Linked DNA regions of Homo sapiens. The protein of the gene in region 2 purifies or fractionates together with the protein of the main gene of each other region. This does not show direct contact. Each region holds a gene or a part of one and is shown on either strand. Other genes may lie near its edges.

Region 1 (3,500 bases), on a different chromosome or scaffold from region 2:
TGATCACGGTTCACTTTATTCTACGGCTTGAATTACAAGCATTATTTTTTATAACAGGAAAAACTAAAGTTTTTCTTTTTTTTTTTGAGATGGAGTCTCACTCTTGCCAGGCTGGAGTGCAGTGTGGTGCGATCTCGGCTCACTGCAACCTCCGCCTCCTGGATTCAAGTGATTCTCCTGCCTCAGCCTCTCCTCTTGCGTATCTGGGACTATAGGCACACGCCACTGTGCCCAGCTAATTTTAGTAGAGACAGGGTTTCACCATGTTAGCCAGGATGGTCTCCATCTCCTGACCTCGTGATCTGCCCGCCTCGGCTTCCCAAAGTGCTGGGATTACAGGCGTGAGGCACCGCACCCGGCCACAACTAAAGATTTTTTAAAGGCTGTTACAACACTAGACCCTCTAAGGCTATCAGTGCTTCCCCCCAAACCACCATTTCGAGGGGGCATTCATATATATATATATATATATTTTTTTTTAGACAGGGTCTTGCTCTGTCACCCAGGCTGGAGTATAGTATCATGATCACAGCTCACTGCAGCCTCAACCTCCCAGGCTCAAGCAATCCTCCTACCTCAGCCTCCAGAGTAGCTGGGATGACGCCTTGCTAATTTTTTTTAATTTTTTTGTTTTGTTTTTGAGACAGTCCCACTCTTTTCCAGGCTGGAGTGCAGGGGCACAATCATGGCTCACTGCAGCCTCGACCTCCCAAGCTCAAGCGATCCTCCCACCTTTGCCCCCCGAGTAGCTGGAACTAAGGTGTGCACCACCACACCCAGCTAATTTTATTTTATTTTTTGTAGAGAAGGGGTCTCCCTATGTCGCCCAGGCTGGTCTCAAACTCCTGGGCTTGAGTGATCCTCCCACGTAGGCCTCCCAAAGTGTGGGATTACAGCCATGAGCCACTGCACCCAGCTTCTATATTTGTTTTTTTCTTTTTCTTTTTTTTTTTTGAGACAGAGTTTCACTTGTCACCCAGGCTGGAATGCAATGGCATGATCTTGGCTCACTGTAACTTCCGCCTCCTGGGTTCAAGCAATTCTGCTGCCTCAGCCTCCTGAGTCTGGGACTACAGGTGCACGCCACCACGCCTGGCTAATTTTTGTATTTTTAGTAGAGACAGGGTTTCACCATGTTGGCCAGGCTGGTCTCGAACTCCTGACCTCAGGTGATCCGCCCACCTCAGCCTCCCAAAGTGCTGGGATTACAGGTGTGAGCCACCACACCTGGCCCCAGCCTCTATATTTGATATAAAGTATACCGATTTCTGGGAGTAATAAGAGAATTGCTAGGAAATTGAGGGTTTCCCTTGCCTTCTGGAACTGAGGACGGATCCCACCATGGCCCCTTCCCCTGCCAATGGGCACAAGCAGGAAGCCCTGAGCAGCCCAGGCATCCGTTTTCTGCATGTGGCCACAGATCCTCATGGCCAATCTGCTATGGAGAGGAAGAACCTGCTTGTTTGCTCCAGGGATGACTCAAACAGTGAGAAGCAGCCGGTCCTGAGGACTGCTGGGCTCAGAGGCACTGCACCCCACTCAGGGTGAAGGGCACCTGTTTGTTTGTGGCTCCTGCTCACGTGAGGCTTGTCTGCCGGGGGTGACCCCAACTCCTGATGGAAAACTCTTCTGATCTCCAGTCTGAGAGCTGGGGGGTCAGGAACATCCAGAAGGGGCCTATTCTGCACATGACTTGATATCAAAAAGCTAAGAAGTTTAATGACTTTTTGGGGGTTGAGTCAGTGTCCCTGGAGTAAAAGTAGCTGCAAAACTGGTGCCTGAAGCTATCCTGGGGCTGCAGTCAGCCCAGCCCCCTGGAGCCCCGGGGCCTCCCCACTGAGGTCCAGTCCAGAACTCCACCTTCGCCTCAGCTCCTCCGCTTCTTCCTTGGCTCTGGCTAAAAATGCCCTGTCCAGAGCCTCGCCCAGCCCAGCAGCACAAGACTGCCCTCTCCTTCACCCCTGCTCTGGCCCCTCACCTCTTCCCCAGGGAGGCAGGCAAGCCCAGTGGCTCCACCATCTGCCAGCAATGGGACCTGATGGGGGACATGCTAACCTCTTTGCGCTTCAGTTTCCCCATCTTGAAAATGAGGACCACAACAGTGCCTCCTCACGGGATGGATCCGGAGGTTCCTCAACGTGGTTCATGCACAGCGGTGGGCAGGTGCCGGGCTCCCAGATCATGCTCAGCACATGGCAGACCCCAGACTCCACACCTGCCCCTTCTCCCCACGGGCCTCACGACCTGCCTTTGCCCCTTCACAGCCTGTTGTGGACATCTCTCCATGTCCACAGGCATGCCTCAGGCCCAGCATTGGGTATACTGCAGGCCCTGGGGACGGGCTATTTCTCCCTCTAGTCCAAAGTCCCTCAGTGTGTGGATCCCAGCGTCTGTAGGGTGGACTGAGGGAAGGCTATGGGACAGGGAGCTGGGAGGGCCCCTCCACTGCTACGTGGAGGTCTCCTGTTCTCCCAATTTGGTGGCCCATTTTTCCCATCTGTAAAATGGGCTCACTGATCCCTAAGCCTGCTCCTTGGGAGGAAACCTTACCGACCAGCAGAGGCTAGAACCAGCCCTCAGGAGTCATCCTGAAATGTAAGCAAATGACTGTCCCCACCAGAGCCCACACATACGGCTGGAGCCCTGCCTGGAAGAGGCTGGAGCTGTGCTTGTACCTGGCTGGATCCTGGCTGCATCCAGCAGTTCCTGGACTCTCCGGAGGATCTCGTGCTGCAGGCCAGCTTCTGAGACGCCCACCTGTGACAGTTCAAGGAAGTGCAGACTGTGGCCTGGGCGGGAGCCCGCTAAATGGTGTGAGCCACGTGGCACAGGCCCAGGCTCACAGGACCGTCGACACCTCCTGCTGGAAATGTGGAAGCCTTCCGGGGCCTGGCGGGGCCCACGGTCAGGATGAGGCAGTGCGGCACCATAGCTGTGAGGGCAACCTCCCCAGGCCTCAGCCCAACAATCAGTGTGGCAGGGGTTGGGGGGAAACTGAGGCCCAAAGGGAAACCAGCACTAGCAACAGCTATGGTTTAGCAACTGCTTCCCGGTGCCAGGCTTCACCTGCACACCTCAGCCACTTCCCCACCAGGTGGGGGAGGAGAGAAGCCTTGGAGGCCAAGCCACTAAGCAGCAGCAGCACACGAGCCCCACAGTCCCTCAGCCTCCAGAGCCTGAGCGGCATGGCCTTGTGACCCTCAGTGCCATCCAGTCCTCTTGGACCCTGGTGTCTGCATCTGTCCAGGGAGGGGCAGGAGAGTCTCATGAAAAAGAACACGAACTCTGGGGCCACACTGCTTGGGGTGGAGACCTCACTCTGCTGTGTGACCTTGGGCCAAGTTATTGCCTTACTGGGTCTCAACTGAAAGATGATGATAATGATATGTACCCTGCTGGGCTGTCGGGAGAATTCAGTGAGTTCGAATACAAAAAGTGCTTAAAATGGTGCCCCGCACGTGCAGGTGCTACAAAGTTAGCTGGCACAGCGATGAGTATTC
Region 2 (3,550 bases):
ACTCCCAGTGGGACTCTGGAAATATGAAGGAACTAGGGAGTGGAAGAGATTTCAGAGCTGGGGAGAGGAGTTCCTCCCTTCAAAGCCAGCAACTGCCTTTGGGGAATGTCGGGGGGTATCTCCTTTCTCCTGCTTGTGTGAGGTGGTACACAGTCCCCCCTTCACCTGGCGGGAAGCCTGTCCCGGACAGACTCATCTCAGCTTTCCCTTGGGGCAGGATCGGGGGCAGCAGCTCCAGCAGAAACAGCAGGATCTGGAGCAGGAAGGCCTCGAGGCCACACAGGGGCTGCTGGCCGGCGAGTGGGCCCCACCCCTCTGGGAGCTGGGCAGCCTCTTCCAGGCCTTCGTGAAGAGGGAGAGCCAGGCTTATGCGTAAGCTTCATAGCTTCTGCTGGCCTGGGGTGGACCCAGGACCCCTGGGGCCTGGGTGCCCTGAGTGGTGGTAAAGTGGAGCAATCCCTTCACGCTCCTTGGCCATGTTCTGAGCGGCCAGCTTGGCCTTTGCCTTAATAAATGTGCTTTATTTTCTCTTCAGTGAACTTTATCCCAGGACCAGTGGGGGTGGGAGAGCCAAGTGAGGCCCAAAGGCAGCTGTGGGCTGGCTGCGGGGCCTGTGGTTGTGTACTCATTCCTATGAGTGGGTGAGTGATGGGGACTGGGCAGGAGGACAGGGAGGGGACAGGAGCTGGCTGCTGTTGGGGATGACTAGGACCACAGCTCCTTGGTCCTTGGCTTGGACCGGGGAAGGGCACTCGCTAGGGGTGGCAGTGAGATGGCATGCCTCTTCCATGAGGTGGTGCCCGCTTCCTGCCCAAGTGGGAGCCAGGAAGCCAGCGGGGGCCTGAGGCATGCCTGCCCTGTGGGTAGCTCCCGAAAGATTCCAGACTCGCTCTTTAGAATCAGGTGGCTCACTGAGCTCTGTATTTTGTTTCCTGGAGCTTTCACTGGTTTCTTCCCCTGAGATACCCCAAGTGACATGAAAAGCATACTCAGGGCCTAGAGACACTTTACTGGGGATGGGCTTCTGTCACAGGTCAGAGGTCTGAGAAGAGGGGCAGGCCCCACTCCTCTCCACTAGTAGAGAAAGGTTGACAGAGAATCATTTCTTGCTTCTCTTGGCCGTAGTTTTGGTTGTGCTGGGGGCCTCAGCCACAGAGGCCTTGGGGGCTGTGGCTGCTCGTGCCCCCTTCCTTCCCCAGAAAGAGCTTTGGTGGCCCCTGGGAATCAGACTGCATGGTTTCTTGGTGGGAGAGGAGGCCTGGGGTGAGGAGACGGCCTCAGGGACTGTCTCCTCCCCTTGCGCAGGAGTGGCAGAAGGGCTGCTGTCCCCAGCCATGGGCACCCCAGGTAGCAGGGGCAGGTCGGTGAGGGTGGGCTGCATCTCCATCCTCAGCAGGTGCTCTGTCAGGGCCGTCTGTTGCCGGTGCTCCCTGTGCCTGCTCAGCTCCTGCTCCAGCTCCTTGAGGAAGCCTGGGAGGGGCCGGGGGTGGAGGGTACAGGGTGGGTGGAGCCCTGGGCTCAGCAGGAGGGTCCCTGGGCTCAGGGAAGTCTCTGGCTGGCCCCTTGTCCCTTGTGGGAAGGAGCCTGAGGCTGGGGCCCAGGACTGACACCTGGCTCTGGCCCAGATGTTGATCTGAACTTGGGGCTCCCCTCCCCGGACGCCACTGCCACCTTAGCTTCCCTCATGTCCCACAGGGCAGAGGTGGGCTCTGGGGAGGCTGAAAACCTTGGAAAGCAGGGTCACCTCGTTCTGAGCAGAATGGGCCACTCAGCTCTGGGAACTCCTCATCGCTTGAGGCTTCATCCTCCTCATCCGAAATCCAGCGCTCCACCACAGGCTGCCCGTCCAGGTCCAGGAGAAGTGGCAGGGCTTCTGTCACCAGCTCGCTGCAGAGCAGAAGGAGCAGAGGTTACCCAGGAGGGCACCCTGGCGTGGAGGATGCAAAGACACGCACCACAGCACTCACACCCGGAGGGGTGGTGGCTCATGAGCTAGGTAGGAGGTGGGGGAGAAGGTGTCATGGACAGGACCCCAGGTTTGCAGGCTGAGAGGGGTCTGGGCTGAGTTAGCAGGTAGAGCTCAGCCATGACCTTTCTTCCCACCCTCCACTCCTTACCGGTAGCCATCCTGGTTGGTGCAGCTGTTTCCAGACAGGTTGAGGATGAGAAGGCTCTGGGGGAACTCATCTGCACACAGCAAAGAGAGAGGAAATGGGGTTCTCACTTGATCTTAGCCAAAAGACCATGAAGCGATGGGAATGGGGTTCTCATACCCACTTTCTAGTCCAAAGCCAGTACCTCTAGGCACAACCCCTTGAACTCCCTGAGGATGAAATGTGGACCTGCAGGGGCATGGCTAATAGAAGCATGGGCAGATGGGTGCAGAGGGGAGGGCAGGCCCCACAGGGGATGTGTTTGGTGAGCCAGGGCGAGTGGGTTCCTACCCAGCTTCAATGTTTCTATCAGGTTCTCAGAAAGGTCCAGAAACTGGAGGCATGGGAGGTCGAGGAGGTTTTCCACCTGCCTGATTTGGTTTCCTGCCAGAGACAGGAAGCTGTAGGGGAAGGAAGGGGTACAGAGGCAGAGCTGAATCATGGAACAGCTGGAAGAAAAGAGGAGGGCACCTGACACCGGGGCCCCTGGGCTAGGCAGCTGATGACCAGTGGGGACACATGGCCTTCTGGGGTGAGGGAGTAGATCTAGGCTTGCTGGTCCTTGACTGACAAGGACCCAGGCTTGGAGAAATCTGAACCAGTTCTTTGGGATATGGCTAGGTTCCCCCAACCCCTCTTCCCCTGCCTGAGCCCTGGCACCACATACCGCAAGGAGGGGATGCAAGCCAGGTTCTCAATTTGCTGGATCTTATTCTGCAAGAAGAAACCGAAGTGGGGAAACCAAGCTGAGATCAGATGCGTCAGGGGCCCTTTACGGGGACAAAGCCCCAAGACCATGTCTACTCTGCAGCTGGAGATCTGGCACTTTGGGAATGATCACCCCACTCCTTGAACAGGTTGCCACTACCTTAAGAAAGATGATTTTCTTTCCCCATGTGGATGGTTAAGGGTGTAAACCTGGGGTATCTAAACCTGACTACGTATACTCTTCTGATTCCACAACCAAAGAGTGACCTGGGAATCAGAAAAGGAAACTAAGAAGCCACCAGGAAAACGGAAAGGGCCTTGGTGGTGGCTTGCATACACAGAGAGAACAATGAGCATACAGGAACTTGACGGTTAAAGTTTCTATGGGGAAAGTTGAAGCGAGCTGGGAATACTCAACCAGGGGAAGGCTGAAGATCAACCAACCACCACCACCACCACCAAACAGCCTTCAAGTAGGATCTGAATGATGTACAGGAATCTTCATAGTTTCCTCTTCTTCAAAACAGGAAATGGGCTGGAGCTATTTAACGTGAAAGATTTAGAGTAGATGCCAAAAAGAACTTCTAGATCAAGAGAAGTGCCTAAAGAACAGTGGAAGGAGCACAGGTCATGTTCAGGATCTATTTTGAGGGAATTAGTTTTTCAATTCAGGACCCTATGTCATTCGT
Region 3 (2,879 bases), on a different chromosome or scaffold from region 2:
ATCCTCAGATGCTGCAGTGGTTAGACTGGTGCCCACTGGGTGGGGGGAGGAGCCCAGAACAGCGTCATGATGTCACCTGTGCCAGTGACAGATGACATCCTGCCTCTGAAGGGAAACCCAGTCTCAGGAGAGCAACACCACGCCCAAAGGTCAAAGAGCGGAGAAGGGCGGGTAAGACGACCCTGGTCTGACCCTAAAGCCTGAGTTTGGAGGTCTCAGCACAACTCCAGAGTCCTCATCCCAGCGCTGTGTTCAGGTGGCGAGAACATGTCTTCCGTGGGCCCCATTTCCCTTGACTGTGGCCTCCCAGCCTCGGGCATCGGCCTCAGGTCACCCCACGGCCTGCACATGCTGTGTGGCTCACAAATATCCAGCTCATTTTTGGAGAAACTGGCTCTTCTGGTTGAGCCGCTGCTTGGGAACCAGGGCCAGAGCTTCCCGTTTCTGACCCCTCCACCACTACTCAAATGCCCGCAGCTAGCCTCACAGTGAACCCAGGCTGACTGGCGCCCACGGCTGCACCGGGCGACCCCTGGTCCTGCTAGGTGGCCTTCCTGGGGGACGAGCGGCTGTCCCCTGGCCCCATCACTCCTCATTCCTGAGGGTTCTCCAGATTCGCTTCCAGGAATGAAGCCTAGTCAGCCAGCCTCCCTCCTCCCCTGCTTGCCCTAATTTGATTTGATCTCCACTCTGGAGGCCTCAGCACTCCTCCATCTGAGCAGGCATCAGGTTTCTCCAGGCAGGCGGCCCCAGCAGCATCCAGGGGCCAAACACGTGCCCAGTGGTACCCAGTCCCCGATCTGAGGCGCTCTGCACAAATACACAGTGACAACCTAGAGAAACTTCAGTATGAAATACAAATAAAAACAAAGTGTAGCAGCGATGGCCTCAGACAGTAGATGGCAGGGACAAACTAAGGCTGGCTCTGGGCCAAAGACACGAGCCTCCTGGGGAGCCTGTGGGGCCCCCTCCCTCCTGTGAGGCTCTCGTCTGGGGTGTCTGCATTTCTGATTTACATTTCATACTTGTTTGGTGCCCTGTGAAATTGGCCTTTCTTCTTTCTGCTTCCAGCTGGTCCTGTGTGGAGGTGAAGGACAAGGGCTGCAGTGAGCCAAAAGTGAGGTGCACAGAGGTCTTGTTTTCCTGAGGCTGATAGAGGGTTCCCTCTAGACCCGGCTCCAAATAAGCAGGGCTCACAAGCCAAAATCCAGATTCTCACGGGTTAGGGTCTGGATTCCTGGGGAAACCAGCCCACAAACTGCTCCTGTGAGGCTGTGGGGCCAGCCCATTTCTCCATGCAAACAGGTGAGACTCCAGCCCCACCAGGGCCTTGGGAACCCGTCTCGTCTCAGAGCCCAATCTCAGGGAGCCAGAAGCCCCCAGGGGCTTTTCCTCCCTCTGGGAGGCAGGACAAAGAACTAGGGGCACCTAGAGGACGCTCCCACCCCACCAGGTGTGGTGCAGGAAGCAACAGAGGCCTGGAAAAGCATTCACTGCGTGAGAAACGGCGCCCAGGGCACTCGCAGCCTCGCTCACGGCCTGCTTCTTCAGGTGCTCTGGCGAGGCCAGGGCCACATCCTGCTCCCGCTCCCTCCTGTGACGTCTGAGCTCCCTGAAAATGGTTTTCTTTGGTTTCCTCCCCGTTCCCTGGCCTGGGGTCACAGGTTTGGACAGTCAGGGTGGTCAGTGGTCTGGTCACTGGAAGCACGGGGATGTGGCCTTGGCATCAGGAGGCCTGGCACGGACGCAGAGGCACCCGGGGCCCGGGGCTGGCTAATGGCCCAGCTGTGGGTTCTTCTGCAGCAGCCACTCCAGGGTCTCCAGGAGGTACGACATGCCGTAGTGCTGGGCAATGTTCCGGAATATTCCGATCTGTTCCATGAAGACCTGCAGGAATAAACAGGCACAGTGAGACCCCAGTCCACTCAGAGAGGAGGCCAAGGAGGCCAGGCTGAGCCGAGGCAGATGAGGGAGAGCCCACCTGGGTGTGGATGGTGAGGGCGAAGTCTCCCGCGCAGCTGCAGTACACAGGCATGCTGGTCTCCTTCACCCCGCGGCACTTCAGGCAGACCTGAAAGGGAGCAGCCCCGATGGGCGCCAGCCCTCCCGCGCTGGCCAGACCTGCCTGCTGCTTCTTCACAGGCTCGCGAGACACATTCGTGGGCCCATCAGTAAGCCTCGAGCCCCTGCTGTGTGCAGCCAGCCCTCGGTTATGAGTAAAATGCACGACCTCATCCCACGGTGCCAGCGCCTTCCCTACACCCACCCTCGCTGTGGATGTTCCACCCCAGATGCCCAGTCCTGAGGCCTCCTCCAGGCCCTGCTCACTCCCTCCATCCTGCAGGCCTGAACGCCGTGCACCACCACACGGCAGCTTGGCGCGTCCCCCAGCCTCTGCTCAGATGCCCCTCGGCAAGACCTTCCTGTGGCCGAGCTGTGCAACTCCCTCTTCCTCCTTTCCTTCTCTTCACACTTGGGAGTGTCTGCCTCCTTCCGCTAGAACGAAGCACCCACAAGGCCAGCTCTTGACCCAAGGCAGGTGCTCAACCAGTGTGGACAGAACAGTCCATCAGGCTCAGGGCATGGACTGGTCTGCAGGGCAGGCCCCTTGGAAGACACCAGGGCGTGCCTCAGGACCTGCACACACCCCGGCTCCCGGGAGTGCACAGAAACCCCCCTGTGGACTCCAGGGCACACGGGCAGGCGGCATGCACGACTCACCAGGTCCTGCAGGGTGAAGGCCATCAGCTTCTTCTGTAGAACTTCCACCAGCGTCATCTCGATGGCAGAGGAGTCGTAGGGCGCCTGACAGTTGGAGCAGAGCCACTGAGGCAGGACCGCCCCATCCTAGGCAGAGCAAGAGTGCGAGAGGTCACCAG

What was found.
Region 1: the proteins of LRRC46 (region 2) and LRSAM1 purify together in Homo sapiens (affinity purification with mass spectrometry; 4 studies listed by BioGRID and IntAct, with this or other methods). This does not show direct contact.
Region 3: the proteins of LRRC46 (region 2) and POLE purify together in Homo sapiens (affinity purification with mass spectrometry; 4 studies listed by BioGRID and IntAct, with this or other methods). This does not show direct contact.

Annotation. Positions count from the first base shown.
Region 1 is NC_000009.12:127,496,510-127,500,009, reverse strand, and holds part of LRSAM1 (E3 ubiquitin-protein ligase LRSAM1), read right to left. Parts: intron 2,758-3,500; coding exon 2,676-2,757; intron 1-2,675.
Region 2 is NC_000017.11:47,834,670-47,838,219, reverse strand, and holds the end of LRRC46 (leucine-rich repeat-containing protein 46), read right to left. Parts: intron 2,868-3,550; coding exon 2,821-2,867; intron 2,555-2,820; coding exon 2,445-2,554; intron 2,188-2,444; coding exon 2,118-2,187; intron 1,888-2,117; coding exon 1,745-1,887; intron 1,471-1,744; coding exon 1,100-1,470; 3' UTR 501-1,099; downstream 1-500. Other genes in the region: SCRN2 (secernin-2), read left to right, coding at 218-376. UniProt on the Homo sapiens protein: Required for normal spermatogenesis and male fertility. Plays an important role in sperm flagellum biogenesis.
Region 3 is NC_000012.12:132,622,924-132,625,802, forward strand, and holds the end of POLE (DNA polymerase epsilon catalytic subunit A), read right to left. Parts: intron 2,848-2,879; coding exon 2,722-2,847; intron 2,497-2,721; coding exon of another isoform or gene 2,257-2,496; exon of another isoform or gene 2,093-2,256; intron 2,072-2,092; coding exon 1,982-2,071; intron 1,888-1,981; coding exon 1,774-1,887; 3' UTR 839-1,773; downstream 1-838. UniProt on the Homo sapiens protein: Catalytic component of the DNA polymerase epsilon complex. Participates in chromosomal DNA replication.